4 linked regions of the Homo sapiens genome follow. The protein of the gene in region 4 purifies or fractionates together with the protein of the main gene of each other region. This does not show direct contact. Each region holds a gene or a part of one and is shown on either strand. Other genes may lie near its edges.

Region 1 (4,643 bases), on a different chromosome or scaffold from region 4:
AAATAAGTGACTGAGCCAAGATTCAAACCAAGGTCATCTGGCTTCAGGGTCTGTGTTCCGGACCTAGAACAATCATAGGGAGTCTGATTTTAGAAATAAGGCGTGAGCCCAGAGCAGTTGTGACTTGCTCAAGGTCAGAGCCTGGATGAGAACCCAGGTGCTTTTGATCCCAGGGGACAAGCCTTGTGCCAAGGCTGGGGGGCACACAGCTGCTCAAGACACAGGGCTGTAGGGTGTGGCCCATTGGTTCCCAACCCTGGAGTCCTGGGGAGCCTAAATAACCTCCTAAAATGTAGCCAGGCTTGAGCGGCAAGACACAGAACAAGGTGCAGCAGGGTCACCAGGGACATGGACATCAGGCAGCGTGGGAAGATGGGGTGAGAGCTCCATGGGAAGGTGAATGGAGGTCAATAGAGGTGAGGAGGAAGGATAAGGGAGCCGGTGTCCAGGCTCTGGAGCCAGACAGAACTGCGTCCAAATCCCTCTCTCCATCTCCTACTGTGGGTCCACAGGAAAGCCTCCTAGCCTCTTGGATACTCCAGATTTCTTGCCAGTAAAAAACATGAGGATAAAACACCTCCCTCTGGTGATGGGGGAACTTGAGAGACCATAATATAAAGGGTCCTGGAACTCTGCCGACAGGTTTTCCTCTCTGGCTCTGTTCTCTGGGCATCCCATGTGGATCCCCTCCCTTTGGATGGGTGAGCTCTTTGTTCGATCAGGTAAATACCATTAACAGCACTGACCCCAGACTGCCTTCCCTGAGACAGGATCCTGGTTTTCATGGAGAAGGAATTGGCCACCATCACTAGGAAACCAGACAGAACCCAAGGAGCTCGGACTACTTGGACGGGCCCTGGGTATGGAGAGAGATGGAGAGCCAAGCCCTGTCCAGAGCAGAGGCGTGTGCCCTCCCCTCCCTGGCCTGAGAGCTGCTGGGCCTAGAACAACTTCTCCTGAGCCAGATGAGGAGATGGATGGGTGTTTTTCATGCCCTGCCCTCCCCAGCCTCAACCTCCCACCCAGACAGTGGTACACCCCTAGCCAAAGTCCAGGTAGGGACGAAAAGAACTCTGCTGCCACACAGCACAGACAAGTATCCTGTGGGTTTTTCACCATTCCATTTTATTCTTAACTCTCATACTCTTCCCTCTCTATTGTCAGATCCCAGCTTCAGCAGATGTTGACCCTATTCCGAGAGCTCTGGCTAATGTTCAATCTGAGGGAATACCAGAACACATAACAATTTGCAACACTAGGCAGTTTTAAGATAGCAGAATAAAGTTACTCCTTTTCATATCCGAAATCACCCAAAATCCAGGAGAAAAAAAGAAATGCAAACTCCTTCTTCAGCAAACTAGAACACATTTATAACCTGAAACACAGCTTATAAGGAAAGGCTGCCCAAAACAGGTAAGGGCTACCAAAAGCAGTGAAGATCAAAAATACTGTGAGAAAACACCTAGAGAAGACACCTGTGGTGGCAGATCTCAGACAAAGCTGGCAGAGCCAGCCAGGAGCTGGCATTCCCTGAAGGAAAAAACTAATGATCCCTTATCAGAAAAAATGGGAACAGGGCATGTGGTCTGGTAGTGGGAGCTGCCTCCTACACCCTGGGGGAAGAGGAGGGCAGGGCCAACAGAGGAAACCACAGACCCGCCATCTTCACAGGAAGCAGTGTGTTGGCAAGGCAGAGTGAGAGGAGGGCTCTGAATTGGGAGAAGCCCACAGCTGCAGAACTCTGCTGACAGAGTAGAAGCAAAGACTAAAGGAAGTCACTACAACAACCCTGTGAACAAAGTTCCTGGGAACCAGGGAGCAATCCTGCCCTCTTCTTGGTACCTCCTCCACATGTGTCTCCTGCAAAATGCTGATCCAAGAAGGTTTACCTCTTTCAAAGAGGAACCAGCACAGGATATAGTCAAAGATGCTATAGAAGAAAGAAAGGAATAAACGAACAGGACAAAACATGGCAAACCAAGCAAACTCACCTGAAAAAAGCTGCCACAAAGCAGATAAAAATGGGAACCAAATTTGTAAACTAATTTTGTGATTGATTATTTCAGAAGGGAGACACCTAGCATGGTCTCAACAAAAGATTAAATCCATTTTGGCTAGTTATAAAGGTAACCTCCAGAACTAAAAATAAAAATACACATCTTGCAGATACAAACCTTGAACATAATACAAAATAAAACAGATCATATACTGAAAGATTTTGTTAGAAAGCAAGAGAGGCAAAAAGGCATAAAAGCATGAAATATGATAGTAAAACTAAGACCGAAATATTGACCATGTCATTAAATGGCCATAGTAAACTGCTAAAAAAAGATTATAAGACTGGGGAAAAACACAAAACCCCCAACCATATGCTACATATAAGAGACATTCCCCAAAGCAAAGTGATTTAACAATTTTGAAAATAAAGGAAGGGCAAACACATAACAGGGAAGTGTGAACTCAAACTAAGCAGGCACTGTAATCTTAATATTAGGCAAGTAAAGTTGATTTCAGGACAAAAGGTTTTAAGTGAGACAAGAATACTTAATAATAATAAAGAATGCGATCCACAATTGAAGACCGAACTCACCAAATAGCACCAAAATTCAGAGCAAAAGCTAGAGGAAATATAAGGAGGGGCCTTAGACAGACACACATCAGAGGCATGTAATTTTAATTTCCCTCTTCTAGCTCATGATGGACCAGTGGACCAAAATTAAGTAAAGACATAGAAAAACCAAATTACATAATTAATAAGACAGATCTAACTAATGTGTTCATCAAATTCTATACCTTGAAAACAAAGAATGCATGTTCTTTTCAAGTGTTCATGGAATGATCAAAAAAATTTTCCTGTATATTAGGTCACAAACAAAACTTCAAAAAAAGCAAAAATAATACAGTATCTGATAACACAGAAGGAAAACTAGAAATTAATCACAAAATTATAGATCACAAAATCCTATCACTTAGGCATTTTAAAAAATTCTTTAAACAACTTGACCCCAACTCAGATCAAAAAAGAAATCCATATAGAAATTGCAGAATATCTGGAATACAACAATAACAAAAAGCATTCCACATACTAGAACCTGCGGGGTGCCTCTACAGCAGTTCTCAGAGGAAATCATGGCTGATATATTTATGCTATTAAATTTTAAAAAATGAATGGAGCATAATAAAATAGGGAAATAATAGAACTAAGCAAAAACTAAAGAGATGGTTCTTTGGGAAAAACTACCACAAAAACAAAACAAAATCAATAAAACATATAAACTATTAAAGCTAATCATGTAATGTATCATATTATATTATGTTATATTATTATATTACTATTATATTAATCTATCATGTTGATAGTGTGTACCCTTGATATGATATAATGAAATCTTCCTTTGGGTGTCTTCCCCAAAACCCATAACCTCACTCTAATCATGAGAAAAACAAAGGACAAATTCCATCTGGAGGCCATCCCACAAAATACCTGACCTAACCGGCAAGGTCATCGGAACCAAAGTCTGAGAAACCATCATAGTGAAGAGGGCCCTAAGGAGACCTAACAATTCCACATAATGTGGTATCCTGGATGGGATCTGGAACAGAAAAAGGATATTAGGGGCTGGGCTTGGTGGCTCACACCTGTAATCCCAGAACTTTGGGAGGCCAAGGCAGGTGGATCATTTGAGGTCAAGAGTTCAAGACTAGCCTGGCCAACATGGTGAAATGCTGTCTCTACTAAAAAAATAAAATTAGCCAGGTGTGGCGGCACACGCCTGTAGTCCCAGCTACTTTGGAGGCTGAGGTGGGAGGACTGCTTTAACCCAGGAGGTGGAGGTTGCAGTAAGCCAAGATCGTGCCACTGCACTCCAGCTTGGGTGACAGAGGGAGACTCCATCTCAAAAAAAAAAAAAAAGAAAGAAAGAAAAGGAAAGAAAAAGAAAGAAAGAGAAGAAAAAGGATATTAGGTAAAAACTGAAATCTGAGAAAAAAAGGAAATCTGAAAAAATATGTTAATAACAATTATTAATATTAATTATTAAAATAAGTTAATAATAATGTATCAATACTGGTTCATTAGTTGTGATAAATGTGCCATACTAATGTAAGATGCTAATAATTGGGGAAACTAGGGTGATAAATGGAGTGAGCATATGGGACCTCTCTGTACTATCTGTTTAGTTTTTCTTTAAATCTAAAACTATTCTGAAGAAATAAAGCTCATTAATTAGAAAAGGTTAAATAAATGTCTAAATTTTAGAGAATACAAAAAAAGGACAAAAACTAGAATTCACCTCTTTCTCCTATCTCATTAACCAGATATAAACATTGTCAGCTTTTGGAGGAATTTTGCTTTATTCTCTCTTTTTTTTTGGTCTATAAATTATAATGAATTTTCTTTTTAAAAATTGGTATAATGGGCCTTTATTTAGATTATTTCACCTAAAAATTATGTAATTTGCATTTTCACATATCACTAAATATACTTTAAATGCATAAGTAACTAAATTTTTAAAAACACATAAAACATAAACCATATAATCATTTAATGGGGGAGAAGACAGAAATATGTAAAACAAGAAATGAAAATGGGAAATAACAAAACGGTGTAGCTGAAAGCACTTGTAAAAGAAGTTAGACTTGTT
Region 2 (5,295 bases), on a different chromosome or scaffold from region 4:
GCTCAGTGTTTTGTTGCTACAGTGATATTTTTCAACCATGTCTTTTTAAATGTTTTCATTATGAATCCCCAAAATATAGTTTGTCGGTAAACTTGAGGTCAAACAGCAGACTGATTTTAAGATGTGTTCAATGAAGCAAAAATGCCAGTATTTGCCTTCTTAGAGGGACAAAATGGTCAAAACTCAGTAAGAGTGGAGAAAAGAAAGGGAAAGAATAAATGAAAGCAGAAGACAAGGAGAAAAGAGGTGAAAATAGGTGGGCTAAGGAGTAAAGGAACTGGGAGAAAGGACCGAAGGTGTCAGGAGAGCTTGGTGAATAACAGGCATTTCCTTCCACCTGCAGGACGCTAAAACCACACTGGATTCGCTGCATTATCCTTCAATGTCTCCTCCCCTGACTCCCTCATCACTCACCCAATTATCTGCTACCCCGACTCCTCCCTTGCCCCTGGTCCACCCCAAAGGCTATGGCCCAGGGAGCATGGGGAGGGTCCCCCAGTCCCACCCTCAAGGCACTGTGGGAGCTCAGGCCCTGACTCAGGACCCCTGAGCTCTGATCCTGCATCCTCCCTGTCTCAGTTAAGGGACCTGAGGGACGCTTTTCACCCTAAATCACCTAAGCCTCAGTTTCCTTAGGACAGCAGGCAATGTCTCCCAGGGCTGCCGAGTCGAGGAGGAGGATAGAGGTACTGTTTTGCCCATAAACATGCTTCCTAAGCCTTTGTAACTTGCTAATTTCCTCTGATACTTCCATTGGCCCTAAATAGGCTTTTCTGGTGTGTCAACAGGCCCTCTTTGAATTCCTATTTTAGGATAAAATAGCCGCCCACTCCAAGTAACTCTCTACCCTTTAGAAATGCCCTGGACTGCTACCCTAGTGGATTCTCCCTCTCCCCGCTCTGACACTGAAATCAAGAGCGATAGAGCTGTGTTTCTGATTAAACACGGAGGATCTTCTCTGCCCCTCAGCAAAGATCTCACTCAACTGAGAGTACCTGGATGGGGAGACATAAATCCATATAAACAAGTAGAAAACAAACAGGCTGGGGAGTGATTTCCAGACCATCGGGGGAGCTGGAGAGCAGGCTGGTGCAGTGGCTAACCAGGATACAGAAGGCGGGCTTGGCACCCGGGGTTGGGACCAGCAAAGAGCAGGGAATCTGAACTACCCCTGGGAGGGCACTGAACGCAAAGGGATGCGCAAATCCCCATAAACAACAGGAAGACACCCCTGCCCCACCCCCACCCCGGCTTCCCAGAGCAGCAGCAGGCAGAGCTGGAAGACCCAAGGCTGCAGGGCACACGTCTCCAAACACTGAACCAGGAGAGAGAGAACACAGGACTCATTGCTTACCTGAGGGGCCTAAGAAGACTGTCTGGGGATAAATTAGGGATTAGGCATGGAGAACACCGAACCCACAGGTAAACAAAAAGAACACCCGCCATGTCCAAGAAAAGCAAGACATTACACAAAAAGAGAAACATAGTCCCCACATAGCAAGTGGCTCAGCTGCAATATTCACAGTCACAATAATGTCAACACTGAAATCTGATTTAAACAAAAACAATTCTACTGGAGGACCCTGGGGGGAACGTACGGGGGAGTGGGGGAGCAGCCAGTAGGTTAGAGGTTCATCTACCACAGAAGGACGTCCATAGGGAATGCAGAATTTCTTTATTTCTTTATTTATTTATTTTATTTATTTTTGAGACGGAGTCTCACTCTGTCGCCCAGGCTGGAGTGCAATGGCATGATCTCAGCTCACTACAACCTCTGCCTATCAGGTTCAAGTGATTCTCCTGCCTCAGCCTCCCCAGTAGCTGAGATTACAGGTGCCCGCCACTATGCTTGGCTAATTTTTGTATTTTTATTTATTTATTTTGAGACAGAGTTTTGCTCTTGTCACCCAGGCTGGAGTGCAATGGCCCAATCTCGGCTTACTGCAACCTCTGCCTTCCAGGTTCGAGTGATTCTTCTGCCTCAGTCTCCCAAGTAGCTGGAACTACAGGCACCCGCCACAATGCTCGGCTAATTTTTGTATTTTTAGTAGAGACGGGGTTTCGCCATGTTGGCCAGGCTGGTCTCGAACTCCTGACTTCAAGTGATCCACCTGCCTCGGCCTCCCAAAGTGCTGGCATTACAGGCATGAGAGACTGCGCAACAGCCCAAAACCTAAATGTTTTGGTCGCGGTACACCACACATCCAGAATTTGAGGTCAGAATGTTAAAATTGTCTAAAGCTCCTACGGTTCGCCTCTGGTGCTGCTGGAATGGCAGTATTGTTTTGGATCCAACACATTCAGCTTATTCATTACACTGGGAATAAAAAACATCAGCAGAACTTATTTGGGGAGAAATATATTAAATAAAAAATGACAATGTCAAAAATACCAGTGAACCTCAAAAGTTGCGGATTCATTAGTTTAAAATGTGCCTTTCTTCTACAGATGCATTCCATAACAAACGATGCAGAAGACATGCTCAGAAGTGATGCCATGAACAGAAATATTAAAATATGTGTTTAAATAAGCTTCTGCCGTTAGCTATTCACTGCTTACTCAATTAAGCTAATCAAATGCAGATCACAGTGTCAGGGTCAAAGTCTTGTGCTTGCCTGGACTGGAATGCCAAGTAAAAACACATGCTTATTAGATACCTTTGATCATGTCAAAGGTGGTTATTTTGCAAAGTCAATTAAAATATCTTTGCCTTGCTATGACTGCAACTTCCTCTTCAGCTAAATTTACCCTTAAGACTTTTCCCTCTTAGGTGCACTACTGTTTTTACCAGGATGAATATGCTTTAGATTTTTTTTTTCTTTTTAGGCTTTCATAGTGCTTCCGTCGCTCATTTCAGTGACCATATTATTGCTTCATAGGCAGCAAAAAAATTTGCTTCCCCAAAGAGTGTCCTTCCCTCAAATCCATTTCATTCTTGGGCTGCTCGGATTTTGGTAAAGTAGGCTGCGAACTGGGATGGCACTTTTCGGAGTGTGCCGGGGTGCCCCAAGGCCACCTTCACTGGAGCGGAGTCGGGGTCACGCGGACGCCTCTGCAGGATGCTCGGACACTGCGCCACGGCCTCACCCGCGCCAGTGGAGGGGGGTTTAGCTCTTACCGTGGGCTCGCGCCTGGCTTCCCCGAGAGGGAGCACCGTGGGCGTTTCCCAGGCTCTCCCCCGCCACTGGGCAACGGCCCCGCACGCGTCCCGCACCTTCCCCAGGGCGCGCGGCGCTCGGTGGGTTTGCGGTTGCGAAACCCCACACCTGGCGAGCCGCACGGACTGCAACCCCGCAGTGCGCTGGCCTGGGACAAGGCACCAGACATGAGAGCCCGTCTGGGATGCGCGGCACCACTGGGACCCTGCTTTCACCGCGGCCCACCCCGCCAAACGCCCCCGCCCACGGAGCCAGCGCGGGGCGCGCCACCACCTCCCCGGCGCAGGCCATCGGATACGCGGCCGGCCTCAGGAGCCGGCGCCGCTGCCTCGCTCTGACCTCCGCGGCGCCCGCACGTACCCACGTCGCCCAGGAAGCAGCCGTCCGCCGCCCGGGGCTCCATGCGGCTCACCGGCGGCCGCGCGGCGACTCTGGGCGCCGGGACCTGGGCCGGGCCGCGCGGGGCCGCTGGGCGGGGCCAGTCTGCGCTGGGCCGCGCGTCGTCCCGAGGCGACCGAGCCGGGAGTTGTAGTTCCCGCCGCCTTGGCGAGGTTCCCGGAGGCGCTGTCCCTGGGTCCGGACTCCGCTGTCGCTGCCCACCCCGCTTCGCCCGTCGCGCCGAGGAGTGTGTGTGCTTGCATCTGCAAACCGTGCGTCCCGTGCACAGAATACGTCCGGTGCAAAACGTGTCCTGTGCACTTGTCCTATGTAAACGTGTGTGTCCGTGTGCAAAACATGCATCCTGTGCATATGTCCTGTGCAAAACATGCGTCCGTGTGTAAACTTGTATCCATTGTAAGCATGCTTCCCTGTGTCCCTTTGCAAAGCATGGATATGTGTTTCCATGTGCAAAACATGTGTCCTGTACAAAACATGCATCCTGTGCATGTGTCCTGTGCAAGCGTGTCCTGTGCAAGCGTGTGCAAAACATGTGTCCATGTATAAACATGTATGTATTGCAAATGTGTCCTGTGCAAGCATGTGTCTGTGTCCACGTGCAAAGCATGCGTCTAGCTTCCAGAGTTCACTTGCATTGTACAGATGCTGATGATGCTCCAGAGTACTCGAGTTCCCCCATGCTTTAACTTTCAAGAACCGCTTCCCACCAGAGCCGGTGTTCATAATCACTGTTTCTTTGATCTTTCAAGATAATAATTTCAAATCGTTCAAATCAATTTCTTAATGCCTTTTCTTTACGGGTGGTTTTTAATCCAATGTTCCCCTAAGCTGCTTAGCAAATGGAAGCTGGGGCACAACCTGGCAGAAATGAAAAACCTGTTTCCTGTTTCCGGAATAATACCCAGTCAACAATTGAGTAAGGGATTTTTATTTTATTTATTTATTTTTGCAAAGCAGCTTCCCAAGTTTAGAAGGTTTAACCTTGTGAAAGTTCACTGTAGCCCTGTCAGGAGATTCGTCACTCACCTGACCTGTACTGAACCTCCATGCAGAAGTTAGTTTGGGCTCAAAAGTAAAAGTATCAGGAATCATCCAGTCTGGAAATAGGTGAGGCCTGGCAGAGCAGCCAGTTTGATCTCTCACACTACAAAGCTTCTGGGATGACCCAGGTCTCCATCTGCAGTCCAGACCGAAGGCACTATACCTAGGGGACATTGAACCATATCTTTTGGAAAGCAGAGCCCCTGGAAATGTGGAGCCCCAGGCCTGGGAATGGAATTTCAAGCCATTTGCACTGGGCATTTAGAGCCTTTTTGCCACTTTCTACCAAAATCAGGCTCCTGCATTTTTCTTGCCGGTTTTCTGCACTTTTTACTAAATGTAACAGATTTTTGTATCGTTATATTTACCATGGATGTTATGTTTTCCCCTGTGGCAATGTCGTGTTTGTATGATTGCATTTTCTTCAATATTTCTTCCTGGACGAAGTGTCATCTAAATTTTAGTATGATCATGTAGAACATATATATATATGTGTGTGTGTATATATTCATATGTGTATGTGTGTTATCCAAGTGTTTCCTAAACATATTAATAAGCAAGTATTTGCTTATTATTTGTTTTTCCTCCATTCTGTTGCTTGACCAAAATATTAAAAGATTTCATTACAGAAAAAGCTTTGCAAAGTTTACATATATATTCAGAAATGCATTCCCTGAAAGTATTTCCTTTTTCTTCA
Region 3 (4,643 bases), on a different chromosome or scaffold from region 4:
AAACCTTTCTGTTTCCCCACAGGCAAAACCTGGGCAGTCACCGCTTGCTGATAATGAATTATGTGTTAAACTGTCTGTGTGACGCACGTAGGCACCAAAGCTCTTATTTTTATTTTTTTGAGATGGAGTCTCACTCTGTCGCCCAGGCTGGAGTGTAGTGGTGCAAACTCGGCTCACTGCAACCTCCGCCTCCCCAGGTTCAAGCGATTCTCCTGCCTCAGCCTGCTGAGTAGCTGGGAATACAGGTGCATGCCACCAGGCCAAGCTAATTTTTGAATTTTTAGTAGAGACGGGGTTTCACCATGTTGGTCAGAACGGTCTTGATCTCTTGACCTTGTGATCCGCCCGCCTCGGCCTCCCAAAGTGCTGGGATCACAGGCGTGAGCCACCGTGCCCATCCGGCACCAAAGCTCTTTAAAAAAGTCCAACAACAATGTTTTAAACTCGGCAGGTTAGGTGACATCCATTTCTATTACTTACACTTTGCACTTGCTACTATTACTATTATTATGACTACTATTTTGCATATACTCAATTTTTAATAAAGTAATTTAAGAAGCTGACATACTAGCTATCCCTCCCCACCAGGAGGACACAGGCTCTTCAGAGAGATGGCCGTTTCCAGGGCAGGCAGGACCCACATCTGCTGGAAGTACAGACTGTTCCAGGACACAGGGAGCTCCGGGAACTCAGGGCATAGCCCAGGACGCAGGTGCCACCTGAAGAGGCTCCAACATCAAGGGGGCCATGGGAGTCCCAAACCAAACAGGAAAGGAGTATGATGCCACAAGGGAACAAAACTTTGCAAATCCACGCTGACTGATGCCACGAGGGAACAAAACCTTGCGAATCCACGCTGACTGATGCCACGAGGGAACAAAACCTTGCGAATCCACGCTGACTGATGCCACGAGGGAACAAAACCTTGCGAATCCACGCTGACTGATGCCACGAGGGAACAAAACCTTGCGAATCCACGCTGACTGATGCCACGAGGGAACAAAACCTTGCGAATCCACGCTGACTGATGCCACGAGGGAACAAAACCTTGCGAATCCACGCTGACTGATGCCACGAGGGAACAAAACCTTGCGAATCCACGCTGACTGATGCCACGAGGGAACAAAACCTTGCGAATCCACGCTGACTGATGCCACGAGGGAACAAAACCTTGCGAATCCACGCTGACTGATGCCACAAGGGAACAAAACCTTGCTGAATCCACGCTGATTAATGCCACGAGGTAACAAAACCTTGCTGAATCCACGCTGACTGATGCCACGAGGGAACAAAACCTTGCTGAATCCACGCTGACAGTAGCGAACACCCACGGGTGTGCATTTTCACGTACATGCCTATCGACAGAAGCAGCCATGGCAGCAGCGCACACGGAGGAGGCACGGCGTGGCCCCAAGGGAAGCTGCCTCCTCCTTGCTGACCTGGTGAAGTGGGTCCTGCTGGCATCAGCTGACCTGGCGGCTCCTCTCAGGCAGGAATCAGGTGGGCGCAAGACTCTGCGGGCAGCCACTAGGGCTGTGGCCGGCCGACACGGGCAGGCATCAGCCTGACACTGCCTTGGCAGAGCCTGAGGACACAGACACCCCTCGGAGCAAAGCTGGTGGCACAGGCAGAGAAGGGTCTCCTGTCAGTGGCAGCTTCGGCCGGGGCCGGGGCCTGGGCTGTGACCATACTCCCCTCCCCTGCAGCAGTGACTTTCTGGACCGAAACACAGCACCTCGGCAACCCTGATCAGTGTCACTGTGTTTGTGTTCAGAGTCCTGAATCCTGATGTCATCTACCCTATTACCGCCCCTCCCAGCTAGGTCTGACACACAGGCTGTACCTGCTGTGCCCAGGTGGCCGACAACGTTGCTGACCAGGAAGTCAGGCGAAAGCCCAGCAGCAGCCGCCGGCCCCGGGCAGGGAAAGCAGCACACAGGCTCCCACCGGGTTACCCACGCTGCTGGAGCTGCTGGAGAGTGCTGTGCTTGACCGCCCGGCCTACACCTTCACTCAGGGTTGACATGAGGTTCTTACATCCGGCCGCTGTACAAACTGTAAAGTACCTGCCCATTTCCAGGACTCAGCTCTTCTCTTCTTCCATCCTCTTTTCTTTATTTTTTATTTTTTGAGACAGGGTCTCACTCTGTCACCCAGGCTGGAACGTAGTGCAACAGTCAGACTCACTGCAGCCACCACCTCCCAGGCTCCAGTGAGTTTCCCACCTCAGCCTCCCAAGTAATTGGGACTACAGACGTGCACCACCACACCCAGCTAATTTTCTTTTTTCTTTTTTTTTTTTTTTTTTTGTGAGACAGAGTCTCGCTCTGTCACCAAGCTGGAGTGCAGTGGCACAATCTCAGCTCTCTGCAACCTCCGCCACCCAGGTTCAAGCAATTCTCCTGCCTCAGCCTCCCAAGTAGTTGGGGCTACAGGTATGCGCCACCACGCCCGGCTAATTTTTGTATTTGTATTTGTATTTTTTTTTTTTTTTGAGGTGGAGTCTCGCTCTGTCACCCAGGCTGGAGTCAGTGGCGTGATCTCGGCTCACTGCAAGCTCTGCCTCCTGGATTCACGCCATTCTCGTACCTCAGCCTCCCAAGTAGCTGGGACTACAGGTGCCCGCCACCATGCCCAGCTAATTTTTTGTATTTTTATAGAGACAGGGTTTCACCATGTTAGCCAGGATGGTCTTGATCTCCTGACCTCGTGATCCACCTGCCTTGGCCTCCCAAAGTGCTGGGATTACAAGCGTGAGCCACCATGCCTGGCCAATTTTTGTATTTTTAGTAGAGACGGGGTTTCATCATGTTGGCCAGGATGGTCTCAATCTCTTGACCTCGTGATTCACCCACCTTGGCCTCCCAAAGTGCTGGAATTACAGGTGTGAGCCACTGCACCCGGCCTTTTTTTTTTTTTTTTTTTTTTTTTTTGTAGAGATGGGGTCTCACTGTGTTGCCCAGGCTGGCCTCAAACTCCTGGGCTCCAGCACTCCGCCTACCTCGGCCTCCCAAGGTGCTGAGATTGCAGGTGTGAGCCACCGTGCCCAGCCCTCTGCTCTTTTCCAAAGATGCTGAGCTGGGCTGGGCACAGTGGCTCATGCCTGTAATTCCACCAACTTTGGGAAGCTGAGGCGGGCGGATTGCTTGAAGTCAGAAGTTCAAGACCAGCCTGGCCAACACAGCAAAACCTCTGTCTCTACTAAAAATGTAAAAAATTAGCCAGGTGTGGTGGTGCATGCCTGTAATCCCAGCTACTCAGGAGGCCAAGGCAGGAGAATCGCTTGAACCCATGAGGCTCAAGAGGTTGCAGCGAGCCAAGATAGTGCCATCGAACTACACCCTGGGTAACGGAGCAAGACTCTGTCTCAAAAAATAAAAATTAAAAAAAAAAAAAAGATGCTAGATGGCTGTCCCTCTCACAGGATGGGCATGTCTTTCATCAGGGTCAGTTTACACAGCCAGGACCACATCACCCATCCAGGATTCGAATCCTTCCCAGTTTGGTTTGAGGACTGTGTTCACTGTAAAGACGGCGAAGGCTGCTCAGGGGCCGAGTGCTTCTGTTTCCACTCTGCCATCTGGGAATATGGGACCAACTCTTCCCTTCACCCTTTCCACAACTCCAGGCCCCCCAGCACCAAGCCCTCTGTAAGCCATGGTCAGAAGACCCTTCCACATGCCCCTGCCACCACCCACCTCATCACCAGCACTAGAACCTGGCTGCTCCTGAGCCCCTCCCATCCCATCTTGCCTGGACCACCTCCCCCTGCTACCTACATGTGCAGCACCCTGGCGGTGTCTGGTCGTGCCCTGGTCTTCCGCCCCATACCCATGGGTCCCTACCTCTCCACAGCGCCAATGCCCTTGTCCCTCCGCTAATTTCTGAAGGACAAACGTCCAGAAATCTCTGCTTTACTCAAAATCCTGATCTCAGCACGAGACAGCCGCGCACTGCCTGTATCAGAGTGCGCCGCCATCCCCAGGTCGGCTCAGAAGCCTCCTCGCTACCTTAGGCTCAAAGTGCGAGTCCACCCTGCTGACATCTGTTTACCTTCACTGCCAAGAGGACTGAAGAGGCCCCTCTTCCACCCAGCTCCTGCCCTGAGGATGCCCACAGCCCATGGTCTTGGCAGCCAGTCCTTCTTCCCACAGCTGCTCCTCTTCCCACCGCCTTCGTAACTTCTGGTCCCTGACACCCGCCAGTTCCACAGTCTGCACATCCTTCTCCCGACCGCCCAGGAAGTCAGCTCAGCCTGACAAGCAGTCTCCCCGCCTTCTCACAGTGGTTCGGCAGCGTTCTCCGCACCAGGATGCTGGACGCCGACACCTTTCCCTGCTTACTCCAAACGCCCGGCGGATGACACCCTGGCTGACGTGGCCCCTGGGCCCCAGAACGGCCCTCGGTGGGGTGGCATCGTACCATGTGCTGCGCAGGGGAGGACTCAGCTGTGATGCAACCCCTTCCTGCTCTACGCCAGCTCGCAGGGGCTCCAGACCAGGGTAGGCGGCAGCTTTTCAGGGACCAGCAGCTTCGCGCCTTCTCAGCTGCAATCTTCAAATAGAACAAGAGGCAAAAGTACCTGCGAGGACCCAGATCCCTCCCTTGTGTCCTTCCCGCCCACCTCTCAGCTCCCCGATGTG
Region 4 (4,643 bases):
CATTTATAGTTTTTTTTTTAATGCATGATGGTATATATATCATCATTATGGAATGTAGGTTATATTGGATACATTTTAAAGAGTGAAATAACAGTTTTAATATATTAATCATAAAAAGTTTTAAATGTTAACATAAATATCCAAGAATTTAACAGTTTTTCTAAAGTATTTTAACAGATTTCTGAAAAAAAATTTTAATTATCATTGCCAAGGTCAGCACTAGGGTGAGGCAAGAAGGCACCTAGAGTGCAAAATTGAAGAAGGTTCTTACTCTCAGGATTCTGCAAGTGCAGCATCAGCACTTAGGGGAACGTAAAAGTGAGTGCCTCCCTAAATTAGGCACCCTAGGATGCTTGCTTATCCTAGTTCCAAACCTGATCACTAGATTATTTAACATGAGAAATTCGCTTGTGAATCATTGACTTTAGAAAAAAATAATTGCAAACATTAATCATTTTTCCATCAACTGCTTTTAATTTGTTTTTTAGGGTGGGATTAAAAACTCAGCCTGAATCAAAATGCCCTGAGCTGCTTGCCAATTACTGTGACATGTTGCTAAGAAAAACACCATTAAGCAAAAAACTAACCTCTGAAGAGATTGAAGCAAAGCTTAAAGAAGTGGTACATGAATTTTTTGTATTTCAACTTTTAAAATTACCTTACTTTGAATTTGTGTTTTGCTTATAGGACTTTCTGTGATAGTATCAATTTAAAAATGTATTATCTGTAAAGAACTAATGTTACGAAGATTTGCAGTGCAAGACCTCTCGGGGGGTTATTTTTCTTTCTGAAAATTTTTATTCTACAGCTTCTTGAAAGGAATACCATTTAATTCCTCTCCTTTCTTGGTTATTTTTAGGAATTAAGTTCTAGCTACTAATACAGGACATATCATTCCAACAAATTTGGAATGATAGTTGACAGATTGGGAGTTTTTCACTCCTTCCTTTTTGTGAGAGTCCAAGATAGATAGCAAGGGATGAATGAGAGTAGATTAAGTAGTTGTTTTCATCTTTGTCACCCAGTTGTTAGTGTAATGATGTAAGCCCAGGAATACAAACAAGAAAAAAAATAAGATATTGGGCAAGTGTAGACAGAAAGGCCGAGAGAGATGACTAGTGTCAGAAAAAAAAGTGAAAAAGATAAGTAGAAGAGACACTTTGCAGGGGGACATTGATTTTTTTCATGTAAAGTATATCGTTGCATTTTATACAAAATCTAAAAAACTGATATTTAGACCGACTAACAATTTGGTTATAGTCTCAGTTTTGCTAACCTTTAAAGTAGTGTATCAGGACTGGGTATTTCTCAGAGATGGATAATTCAGTAGGCCTCTATCTGTATATGCTCATAAAAGTTTCTGACTTGTGACAATTGGTGGATATAGAAAGGTCTAAATTCGAGAGATGGTAAGAGTATATAAGAACTGAAAGTAACTTTATTTTTCATACAGCTCTTGGTACTTAAGTATGTACAGAACAAAGATGTTTTTATGAGGTATCATAAAGCTCATTTGACACGACGTCTTATATTAGACATCTCTGCCGATAGTGAAATTGAAGAAAACATGGTAGAGTGGCTAAGAGTAAGTAAATTTTTTTAAATATTTGGTTTTCTAATACATTACATCATTTATATGTGTGCTTAAGTAATACATTTTGGAGATATTGTTAATGTCAAAGAAGTAGGAAACATTTTATAAGAATATAGCGTCAGTTAGGCCGGGCGCACTGGCTCATACCTGTAATCCCAGCACTTTGGGAGGCCGAGGCAGGTGGATCACCTGAAGTCAGGAGTTCAAGACTAGCCTGACCAACATGGCAAAACCGCGTCTCTACTAAAAATACAAAAATTAGCTGGATGTGCTGGTGCACTCCGGTAATTCCAGCTGCTTGGGAGGCTGAGGCAAGAGAATCACTTGAACCCAGGAGGTGGAGGTTGCAGTGAGCCAAGATCGTGCCATTGCACTCCAGCCTGGGTAACAGAGTGGGACTCCATTTCAAAAAAAAAAGAATATACCATCAATTATATAAAATAAAGTGATATCTAATAAATGTTCTTAATACTTTCAGTAAAGTATCTTTGTTCTTGAGTTGTTTCTACTGTTTCACTCCCATTTGTACCTCAACTCTCATTTAAACTGACCTTATTAATAAATAGACTACAGGGGCTGGGCACGGTGGCTCACACCTATAATCCCAGCACTTTGGGAGGCCAAGGCAGGTGGATCACAAGGTCAGGAGATCGAGACCATCCTGGCTAACACAGTGAAACCCAGTCTCTATTAAAAATACAAAAAAATTAACGAGGCGTGGTGGTGGGGGGCCTGTAGTCCCAGCTACTTGGGAGGCTGAGGCAGGAGAATGGCATGAACCCTGGGGGGCGGAGCTTGCAGTGAGCTGAAATCGAGCCACTGAACTCCAGCCTGGGTGACAGAGCAAGACTCCATCTCAAGAAAAATAAAATAAATAAATAGACTGCAGGACAAATTATTATATCTTTAAGGTATTTTCAGTACTAAATGCTTAACTTTAGAGATGTTTATAAATGATAACAATAAATACTTCTGTATAGCAAAAAGAACCTTTAAATGATGGCCTATTTAGGGTAATCAATGCTGATTATAACTAAATTCCCATATAAAGTATTTTGAGTTCTTTTTTTGTTTTAATTATTAAAGTAAATATCTTTAATTTCTGTGTATGTATATAACTCTCTCCACATATATATGGAGAGAGAGAGAGTGCGAGCAAGCACACACGAGAGAGACCTACAGATATTTTAACTTATAGCTAGCCCTTCGCATGGAACTTTAGGATAGTAAAAATTACTGTGCTAACTGAAACTGCTTAGTAGGAAAAAGAATGATTATTCTGTGACTTTTTAAAACTATTGTCAAAAGACTCAAAACTCTTACTGTCACTTATAAGTATATAGGAAAAAGGGGAAAATAGCAAAACTAATACATATTTACTACGAGAAACCTTTAGAATTAAATTTTCTTTCTTTCTTTCTTTTTTTCTTTTTTTTGGAGATGTAGTCTTGCTGTGTTACCCAGGCTGGATTGCAGTGGTGCAATCTTGACTCACTGAAACCTCTGTCTCCCAGATTCAAGCAATTCTCCTGTCTCAGCCTCCTAAGTAGCTGGGACTACAGGTTTGTGCCATGACGCCTGGCTAATTTTTGTATTTTTAGTAGAGACACGGTTTTGCATGTTGGCCAGGCTGGTCTTGAAATCCTGGTCTTAAGTGATCCGCCTGCCTCGGCCTCCCAAAGTACTGAGATTACAGGCGTGAGCCACCACACCCGGCCTATGTTATTTCTTTGTTAAAAAAAAAATATCAAGACCCAACAGTAAAATGACAAACAAGGCTAGGCATGGTGGCTCACACCTGTAATCCCAGCACTTTGGGAGGCTGAGGAGGGCAGATGGCTTGTGCTCAGAGTTTGAGATGAGCCTGGGCAACGTGGTGAAACCCCATCTCTACAAAAATTTAAAAAATTAGCTGGGTGTGATGGCATGCACCTTAGTCCCAGCTGCTTGGGAGGCTGAGGTGGGAGGATCGCCTGAGCCTGTGAGGTGGAGGTTGCATTGAACAGAGATCTTACCACTGTACTCCTGCCTGAGCAACAGAGTCAGATCCTGTCTCTCTCACTCACACACACACACACACACACACACACACACACACACGACAAATAATTAAAAGCAGGCAAAGGATTCGAATTGACATCTCTTCACAGAAGATAGACAGATGGCCAATAAGTGCATGCAAAGATACTCAACATCATTAGTCATTAGTGAAATGCAAGTGAAATGCTCAACATGTTGGCTCCTGCTTATCCCAAATATTTTGAAAGGCTGAGGTGGGAGGATTGCATGAAGCCAGGAGTTAGAAACTACCCTGGGCAAAATAACAATACTCCATGTCTACAAAAAATACAGAAATCAGCTAGGCATGGTGATGTGTGCCTGTGGTTCTAGCTACTCAGGAGGCTGAGATGGGATGATTGCTTGAGCCCAGAAGTTCAAAGTTGTAATGAGCTGAGATTGTGCCACTGCACTGCAGCCTGGGCAACAGAGTGAGACCCTTTCTCAAAAACAAAAAAAACACAAAGAGATACTACTTTATTCCCACTAGGGTAGCTAAAATAAAGACAGATGATAACAAATGCTAGTAAGGAAGAGGAGAAATTGGAACCTTCGTAAGTTGCTAGTGGAGACATAAGATGGTGCAGACACTTTGGAAAACTGTTGGGCAGTTCCTTAAAATGTTGAACGTAGAGCTGACCCAGCAATTTCACTCTTAGGTAATTCATTTGAAGAGAAATGAAAACATGTTTCATGTAAAAACTTGTAAACAAATGTTCATGGCAAGATTACTAATAATAGTCAAAAAGTGGAAACAACCCAAAATGTCAGTGAGCTAATGAATAAAATGTGATTTATCCATACAATGGAATATTTTTTGTGATAAAAAGGAATAAACTAATAATACATGCTGCAATATTAGGTGAACTTTGAAAACATAATGCTGAGTGAAAGAAGCCAATCCCAAAGACCATATCGTATGATTCCACTAATGTGAAGTGTCCAGAATAGGCAAATCCACAAATTCCAGGAGTTGGGGCCAGGAGGGGAA

What was found.
Region 1: the proteins of CUL5 (region 4) and SPSB4 purify together in Homo sapiens (co-immunoprecipitation; 5 studies listed by BioGRID and IntAct, with this or other methods). This does not show direct contact.
Region 2: the proteins of CUL5 (region 4) and ASB13 purify together in Homo sapiens (affinity purification with mass spectrometry; 5 studies listed by BioGRID and IntAct, with this or other methods). This does not show direct contact.
Region 3: the proteins of CUL5 (region 4) and RAB40C purify together in Homo sapiens (affinity purification with mass spectrometry; 6 studies listed by BioGRID and IntAct, with this or other methods). This does not show direct contact.

Annotation. Positions count from the first base shown.
Region 1 is NC_000003.12:141,061,009-141,065,651, reverse strand, and holds part of SPSB4 (SPRY domain-containing SOCS box protein 4), read right to left. Parts: intron 1-4,643. UniProt on the Homo sapiens protein: Substrate recognition component of a SCF-like ECS (Elongin BC-CUL2/5-SOCS-box protein) E3 ubiquitin-protein ligase complex which mediates the ubiquitination and subsequent proteasomal degradation of target proteins.
Region 2 is NC_000010.11:5,662,991-5,668,285, forward strand, and holds the start of ASB13 (ankyrin repeat and SOCS box protein 13), read right to left. Parts: upstream 3,606-5,295; 5' UTR 3,562-3,605; coding exon 3,519-3,561; intron 1-3,518. UniProt on the Homo sapiens protein: May be a substrate-recognition component of a SCF-like ECS (Elongin-Cullin-SOCS-box protein) E3 ubiquitin-protein ligase complex which mediates the ubiquitination and subsequent proteasomal degradation of target proteins.
Region 3 is NC_000016.10:596,228-600,870, reverse strand, and holds part of RAB40C (ras-related protein Rab-40C), read right to left. Parts: intron 1-4,643. UniProt on the Homo sapiens protein: RAB40C small GTPase acts as substrate-recognition component of the ECS(RAB40C) E3 ubiquitin ligase complex which mediates the ubiquitination and subsequent proteasomal degradation of target proteins.
Region 4 is NC_000011.10:108,088,039-108,092,681, forward strand, and holds part of CUL5 (cullin-5), read left to right. Parts: intron 1-488; coding exon 489-621; intron 622-1,453; coding exon 1,454-1,585; intron 1,586-4,643. UniProt on the Homo sapiens protein: Core component of multiple cullin-5-RING E3 ubiquitin-protein ligase complexes (ECS complexes, also named CRL5 complexes), which mediate the ubiquitination and subsequent proteasomal degradation of target proteins.